Regions from separate parts of the Homo sapiens genome. Here region 2 is linked to region 1. The links come from fine-mapping of genetic effects on gene expression. A gene starts in region 1. The other region holds a variant in brackets. All regions are shown on one strand. Distances are between the middles of the regions.

What was found. PIP is the estimated chance that this variant, and not a neighbour inherited with it, causes the effect.
Region 2: its variant is the best candidate, but not a certain one, in a credible set for the expression of PRRT3 in whole blood (INTERVAL, PIP 0.73).

The regions. Positions count from the first base shown.
Region 1 is chr3:9,950,485-9,955,002 of GRCh38, reverse strand. It overlaps PRRT3 (proline rich transmembrane protein 3), which reads left to right and starts at 2,595. Exons shown (of 4, transcript NM_207351.5): 1 at 2,595-2,681. PRRT3-AS1 (PRRT3 antisense RNA 1) reads right to left here. Exons shown (of 4, transcript NR_046734.1): 4 at 216-399. RefSeq lists a silencer at 2,557-3,096.
Region 2 is chr3:10,076,286-10,080,285 of GRCh38, reverse strand. FANCD2 (FA complementation group D2) reads right to left here. Exons shown (of 44, transcript NM_001018115.3): 30 at 2,089-2,205. Among named protein-coding and RNA genes, the nearest start is that of FANCD2OS, 30 kb to the left of the region's middle. The variant T/C (reference allele first, on the strand shown) is at 2,042.

The DNA of each region.
Region 1 (4,518 bases):
ACATGGGAACAGACACAGGTCCCCCAAAGGAAGTTAGGATGCTGTCAGGAAGGGAAATGGTTATTGCAAAACCCTCCAAAATGTCAATCAGCTATATGTAGAATCAGGATCCAGTTAACTTCCTACAAGATTGTAACAACAGGCTGGATCTAACAAGATAAACAACAAACAAATGTAGAATCCTACATTAAGAGTCAATAAACCAGTGGTACATGAAGAGATGGGAAGACTTTACTACTAGATCAATTGGGTAACAAAGTAATGTGGCTGCTAGAAACATTAATTCAGTGTGAGGCCGTATGAATGGAGTAGAATCCTGGAAAGGAGAGGTGAAGGTTCAGCTTTACTCCCAACAAGGTTCATTTCCAAGAGTCCTACTTTCAGAGGGGCGTTGTTGAGCTGGTAAGAAGCAAACAGAGAAGAGATTCCACATGGTGAGAACCCAGAATCCTGTCCTGCAAGGAACAGCTGAAAAACTCGGAGTGTTTGTCCTGGAGAAAGAAGACTCTAGAGAAATGAGAGATGCCTTTACAATTCTGAAGTGGCTCCAACAAGGAAAACAGAGCTGGTCAGGTCATGTGTGAAACGGGCAAGGCCTGCACCCTCTCCCAGAGTCAAGCAGCTGAATGCAGGCCCCACCATTTACCAGCCATTAGGGATGGAATATTCTTCAAACTGCAACACGTCAGACACAACTGGGGCCTGAGTATTGCTTTTCTGTGAGAGCTAGAGGTAGGAAGCCATTGGGAGGGAGATGTCAGCTCAGCCCTAGGAAGAATTTTTTCTTTTTCTTTTTTAAGTGAAATTTGATTTTTTATTTGATACTGGGTCTCTTTCTGTCACCCAGGCTGGAGTGCGGTGGTGCGACCTTGGCTCACTGCAACCTCTGGCTCCTGGACTGAAGTGATCCTCCCACATAACCCTCCTGAGTATCTGGGACCCAGGTGCGCACCACCACACTTGGCTAATTTTTTTTTTTTTTTTTTGGTAGAGATGGGGTTTTGCCATGTTGCCCAGGCTGGTCTCGAACTCCTGGGTTCAAGCAGTCCTCCAGCCTTGGCCTCCCAAAGTGCTGGGAATATAGGCATGAGCCATTATACAGGCCAAATTTTCTTCTTCTTCTTCTTCTTCTTTTTTTTTTTTTTTTTTTTTTTTGTCAGTCTCGCTCTACTGCCCAGGCTGGAGTGCAGTGGTCATTGCACTCCAGTGACACAGCTTGTGGTCAATGGACAGAGTGGTCAATGCACTCCAGTGACACTCCAGTGGCCATAGCTTACTGCAATCTTGACCTCTTGGGCTCAAATGATTCTCTGGCCTCAGCCTCTGGAGTAGGTAGGACTACAGGCATGTACCACCACGCCCAGCTAGTTTTTTTGTTTTTTTGTTTGTTTTTTAATTTAAAAAAGTCTCACCATCTTGCCCATGCTGGTCTTGAACTCCTGGGCTCAAAATGATCCTCCTCTCTAGGCCTCCCAAAGTGCTGGGATTACAGGTGTGAGCTACTGCACCCAGCCCTATCTCATTTTTGATAACCACATATATTTCCTGTGTGGCTTTCCCTTAAGGAATTGAGCCTAATAATGGATGTTTAGTATATCAAGAGGTGTTCAAAGAAAGACCAAGAACATTTTGACAGTGTCTACCAGCCCCATATGCAGACCCATAGATTTTACTACCATGCCTCGGCTAGGCAATTATCTGGTAGGTGCACTAGTGTACGTGCACAGTGATGTGTTAAGCAAGGAATGGCCCCTGCTCCATTATCCCTGCGAGCAAAAGGCTAGAAACAACCTATGTCCAATTACAGGGGACAGGATAAAGAACAATAACTAGCTGACCATATGCTGGAATTCTCAACAGTGGATACAAGAAATGATATAGATCTATAGATATTTACATGAAAAATGTGCCAGAATATATTGGAAAGTGAAAAAGACAAATTACAGAAATGTGTACAGTGGCTGGGCACGGTGGCTGACGCCTGTAATCCCAACACTTTGGGGGTCCGAGGCGGGCTGATCACCTGAGGTCAGGAGTTCGAGACCACCCTGGCCAACATGGTGAAACCCTGTCTCCACTAAAAATATAAAAATTAGCCAGGCATGGTTACTAGGGAGGCTGAGGCAGGAGAACCACTTGAACCTGGGAGGCGGAGGTTGCAGTGAGCCGAGATCACGCCACTGCACTCCAGCCTGGGCGACAGAGCAAGACTGTCTCAAAAAAAAAAAAAAAAAGTATACAGTATGATGTCATTTCTATTTAAGATGTACATGTAACTGTACATTGAGAAGAATCTGAAGGATACATACCAAGCTGTAGGTAGGATTTACCTAAAAGGATGTAGGGATATAGAAAGGAAGTGAGCTCCCCGTCCCATGAGGTATGCAAGCAGAGGCTAGCTGCCCCGTTTTCAGGGATGCTGCAGAAGACATTTCCACATCCCTCAGAGATGACCTCGGTTCCACTCTGAGCCCTGACAATCCCTGAGCGAGGGGAAGTCAGGGTTGACAGAAGAGTCCACCCCTAAGGGGAAAGAGTTAAGCAGGGCTGCGCTCCTGTGGGCGGGCTCGCGATCGGCAGCGCCGGGCTCTGTTAGCCGAGTCTGAGCATCTCGGAGGATGCGGCGCGGCGATCGGCTGCAGGGACGCGCGCAAGGTGAACACGGGGGCTGCGGCGCGCAGGTGAGGAGCTGGCCCAGGGAGGGGGCGATGGCGGGACCCCGACGGGGAGCGTGGCCTGCTGCCCCCGTCGCGGGCGCAGGCGACCAGGCCTGCACGGCGCCCACCCCCATCCAGGACACTGCGGGAAGGCGCGGAGCCAGGGAGAGAGGAGACGGAGGAGGAGGAGGAGGAGGAGGAGAGGTAACCCGAGATGGACCAGCTCCGAGGCTGCCCCGCAACGGCCTCGCCCTGCCCCCAGGCCGGCCTCTCCCCAGTCCCTGCGGCAGAGAGATCCGCCACCCCCCACAGCCTCTCCAGCAGAGTGGGAGCCCAGGGCTGGGCAAGCCCCCGCCTTGTCCGCAGGTGCCCACATCTCTTGGGTTGGCAGTGGTAGGCAGATGGCATGTTTATCTTTGGAGGCCCCATTCAGCCGTTTTCTCGGCAAAGCTTTTTGGACCTCCTGTGGAAGATGAGCCTCCGAGGGTTTCACAACCCCGATTGTGTCCACTCAGCTGTGTGACCTTGGGGGAGTTGCTCACCCTCTCTGAACCCCCGTTTCTTCCCCCTGTGAAATGGCTGTTCCCACACCTTGTATTGGGAGGGCGGAGTGACGTGTTGCTAAGCTCAGCGCAGGAGCCTCACTGGGAAAGAACTAAACACAGGAGCACTGTTTTTAGCCAGTACCTGTGTTAGGGGCGTCTCAGCGCACCCCTACTCCCAACCCTGGAGCAAAGCCCTGTCTCTGGGCCCCCAGCACCTAGCCTAGACCAGGAGCAGCCCATGGGGCTCCGTGAATGTTTGAGAAATGAACTAACAAGGCTTTAAGACAGAGTCTAAACTCGAGTTTGGAGGATGGGACTCAAAGGTCTTTGAACCCCTTGAAATTGTTCACAACTTTCGGTGAGCCTGGGTCTTTTCCCCGGGAGAGCACCAGGGGTTTTCAGTGGCTTCTTAAGGTGTCTGTGAGCCACCATGGGTTAACAGCCAGGAAGCTTTGGGGACAGCTGCTCCCCAGAGAGGAAAAGAGCAGGGCCTCTGCCGCCAAACACACCCAGGCTTCAGCTCTCGCACCCTCCATGAAACCTCTCCTGGTGGTGGGGCCCCTTCCTGCCTCCCTGGCCCACTGACAGGCTCTCGAGAACAGGAACTTTTAGGGGATATCCACGTGGGGCCAGGTATATACTGGAGGCTGCAGGTTTGAAATAAGAGGCAGGAGATTATTATAGAATCAGACCAGAGTGACAAGTGCCCAGGAAGATGAGGGAAGGAAGGCGGGAAGAGGAATGTGTAACGCTTGTCAAGCATCAGGTATGAACCTCGCCCATACCTGTTTGGTTATTTGTCTCATGCCTTGAGTTAGGCATGCTTATTATCCCCATTTTACTGATGGGAAAACTATGATGCAGAGAGGTGAAATGACTCCCCCAGGAAATGAAGACACTGGGATTCAAACTCAGGCCCCTCGCCAAAGGCCGGTGCATATTCCTCTCCCTCTCCACGTCTCTCATTTTTGAAGTGGGCCTTTAGGAATAACATTTCAGGCAGGGTGCAGTGGCTCATGCCTGTAATCCCAGCACTTTAGGAGGCCAAGATGGGCAGATTACCTGAGGTCAGGAGTTCAAGACTAGCCTTGCCAACATGGCAAAACCCCATCTCTATTAAAAATATAAAAATTAGCCAGGTGTGGTGGCACATGTCTGTAACCCCAGCTACTCGGGAGGCTGAGGCAGGAGAATCACTTGAACCTGGGAGGTGGAGGTTGCAGTGAGCCGAGATCACGCCACTGCACTCCAGCCTGAGCGACAGAGCAAGACTCCGTCTCAAAAAGAACAGGATTTCAGTAAGTGAAGGGGAAGGG
Region 2 (4,000 bases), 130 kb before region 1:
CTCCAGCCTGGGCAACAGAGCAAAGCCCTGTCTCAAAAAGTAGACCCGATAGTGAATACAAAGAAGAATGAATTGCTGGGCACTGTAGCTCTTGCCTGTAATCCTAGCACTTTGGGAGGCCAAGGCGGGTGGATCATGAGGTCAAGAGATCAAGACAATCCTGGCCAACATGGTGAAACCCCATCTTTACTAAAAATACAAAAATTAGCTGGGTGTGGTGGCGTGCACCTGTAGTCCCAGCTCCTCGGGAGGCTGAGGCAGGAGAATCGCTTGAACCCAGGAGGCGGAAGTTGCAGTGAGCCAAGATCAAGCCACTGCACTCCAGCCTGGCAACAAAGCAAGACTCCGCCTCAAAAAAAAAAAAGAAGACGAAGAAGAAAAATGAATCAAGAAACCAAGAAACGGGATATATTAATGTTTAAATGCTTATACCCAAGACCCAAGATTTTCTCATTTTGTTATATGTACCGTCCAACTGCTTCCCCGGATGCTAGGTGCACGTTTGTACACTGTATACACATCTGAAGTTCTGGACGTTCTAGACAGCTTACTACTACACTGAGGCATGGGCCCAGGCTTGGTTTGGGAGGCTGTTGAAACCAAAATTCAAGTAAAGAACAGGATTCAGGAATGTTCAGGGCATTTAGAAATACATTTCGTAGGCTGGGCGCAGTGCTCACGCCTATAATCCCAGCACTTTGGGAGGCCGAGGTGGGCGGATTGGGAGGCCGAGGTGGGCGGATCATGAGGTCAGGAGTTCGAGATCAGCCTGATGAACATGTTAAAACCCCATCTCTACTAAAAATACAAAAATTAGCTGGGTGTGGTGGCGCGCGCCTGTAGTCCCCAGCTACTCAGGAGGCTGCAGCAGGAGAATCGCTTGAACCCAGGAGGCAGAGGCTGCAGTGAGCCGAGATTGCACCACTGCACTCCAGCCTGGGAGACACAGCGAGACTCCGTCTCAAAAAAAGAAATACATTTCTTATTCCAAGTGCCTTTCTATTTTCTGTTTCAGACTTCCTATTTTTTTTTTTTTATTTCTGAGACAGAGTCTTGTTCTAATGCCCAGGCTGGAGTGCAGTAGCATGATCTTGGTTCACTGCAGCGTCTGCCTCCTGGGTTCAATCAAGTCTTCTGCCTCAGCCTCCCAAGTACCTGGGACTACAAGCATGCGCCACCATACCTGGCTAATTTTTTTTGTATTTTTAGTAGAGACAGGCTCTTGCCACGTTGGCCAGGCTGGTCTCAAACTCCTGACCTCAGGTGATCCACCTGCCTCGGCCTTCCAACGTGCTGGAATTACAGGTGTGAACCACTGCACAGGTAGACTTTTTTTTTTGTTTGAGACGAAATCTGTCACCCAGACTGGAGTGCACTGGTGCAATCTCAGCTCACTGCAACCTCCTCCTCCCCATGCCTCAGCCTCCCAAGTAGCTGGAACTATAGCTGCACCACCATGCCCGGCTAGTTCTTTTTGTATTTTTAGTAGAGATGGGGTTTCACCATGTTGGCCAGGCTGGTCTTGAACTCCTGAACTCAAGTGATCTGCCCTCCTTGGCCTCCCAAAGTGCTGGCATTACAGGCGTGAGCCACCACGCCCAGCCTTCAGACTTCCTATTTAAAGCAAGATGAGGCCGGGCGCGGTGGCTCATGCCCGTAATCCCAGCACTTTGGGAGGCCAAGGTGGGCGGATCACAAGGTCAGGAGATTGAGACCATCCTGGCTAACACGGTGAAACCCCGTCTCTACAAAAAATACAAAAAATTAGCCAGGCGTGGTGGCAGGCACCTGTAGTCCCAGCTACTCGGGAGGCTGAGGCAGGAGAATGACATGAACCCGGGAGGCGGAGCTTGCAGTGAGCCGAGATCACACCACTGCACTCCAGCCTGGGCGACAGAGCGAGACTCCATCTCTAAATAAATAAATAAATAAATAAAGCAAGATGAATATTGTCTGGCAATACGGCTGCACCCATGCTACCCAGTGACCCAAACACAATGCCAAAGAAAGTGACAACTTTTTCATCATAATACCTCCTTTG[T/C]TCCCAAATCCACTATGCCCAAGTCCTATGCTTCTGCCTACACTAACCTTGAGAAAGGGGACTCTCCTGGCAATAGGAGGTGTCAGCATACTCTCCAGCTTCTGGGAGAGATCTTCCAGCAAGAAAAGCAGCTCAGGGGGCCCAAGTTGCACAACTTCTGTAGCCTGTCACATGGAGGAAAGGATTAGTTCCAGGAATGTCCTAGTCATTTCATGATAATTTTTTTTCTTTCTTTTTTGTTAAATGTGCAGTGGCAAGATCATAGCTATTCCAGCCTTGAACTCCTGGGCCCAAGTTATCCTCCCATCTCAGCCTCCCGAGTAGCGGGGACTATAGGCACACACAACCATGCCCAGCTACATTTTTTTTTTTAATTAATAAGAAATGAGGTCTCACTATATTGCCCAAGCTGGTCTCAAACTCCTGGGCTCAGATGATCCTTCTGCCTTGGCCTCCCAATATGCCAGGATTACAGGTATGAACCACCACACCTGGGCCCAGCGAATTTTTAAATTTTTTTATACAGACGGGGTCTCACTTTGTTGCCCAGGCTGGTTTCAAACTCCTGGGCTTGAGCAATCCTCCTGCCTTGGCCTCCCAAGGTATTGGGATTATGGACAGGCATGAGCCACCACACCTGGCTATTTCATGTTAATACTTCCCAATGGGTGAAAAAAAAATTTTTTTTTTGAGACAGAGTCTTGTTCCGTCACCCAGGCTGGAGGGCAGTGGCATGATCTTGGCTCACTACAACCTCTGCGTCCCAGGTTCAAGCAATTCTCCTGCCTCAGCCTCCCAAGTAGCTGGCATTACAGGTGCCCACCACCATGCCTGACTAATTTTTGTATTTTTAGTAGAAATGGGTTTCATCACGTTGGCCAGGCTAGTCTCAAACCCGACCTCAGGTGATAACGCCTGTCTCAGCCTCCCAAAGTGCTGTGATTAGAGGCGTGAGCCACTGCGCCCAGCAGGGTAAATAATTTGACTTTTATTTATTTATTTACTTATATTTGAGACAGGGTCTCGCTCTGTTGCTCAGGCTGGAGTGCAATATTGTGTTCACAGCTCACTGCAGCCTCAACCTCCTGGACTCAAGTGATGGTCCCACCTCAGCCGCCCAGGTAGCTGGGATCACAGGTGTGCGTCACCATGCCTGGCTACTTTTTTTTTTTAACTTTTTGTAGAGACAGGTCTCACTGTGTTACCCAGGCTGGTCTCAAACTCCCAGTACTTTGGGAGGTCAAGGCAGGCAGATCATTTGAGGTCAGGAGTCTGAGACCAGCCTGGCCAATGTGGTGAAATCCCATCTCTACTAAAAATACAAAAATTAGCTGATGTGGTGGTGGGCACCTGTAATCCCAGCTGCTTGGGAGGCTGAGGCAGAAGAATCGCTTGAGCTCAGGAGGCAGAAGAATCACTTGAGCTCAGGAGGCAGAGGCTGCAGTAAGCCAAGATCGTGCCACTGCACTCCAGACTGACGGACAGAGCAAGACTCCGTCTCCAACAAACAAACAAACAAATAAAAAAACTAGCCGGGTGTAGTGGGGCATGCCAGTGGCCCTAGATACTTGGAAGGCTGAGGTGGGAGGATCACTTGATCCTTGAACCCAGGAGTTCAAGGTTGCAGTGAGCTATGATCTTGCCACTGCACTTCAGCCTGGGTGACAGAGCAAGACTCTGTCTCTAAAAAGAAAAAAGAGGCAAGGGAGGAAACTGCACCCATCTCATATAAAGGATAGCTATTATGCTCTGTCATATAATAAAGTCAAGCATGTCCAAAATAAATATTCAGAATAGTAAAATAATAATTCAAGACAGGATAGTTTAGAAGACATACTTTTTCTCTATAAATTCCTCTGTATACCTTTCTAGTTGTGGATCCAAGATGCGTTTCCTAAATATCCTGTGATTTAAAAAATGACTTTGAATGCCACACACAGGGTTTGGGAAAAAAAAAAA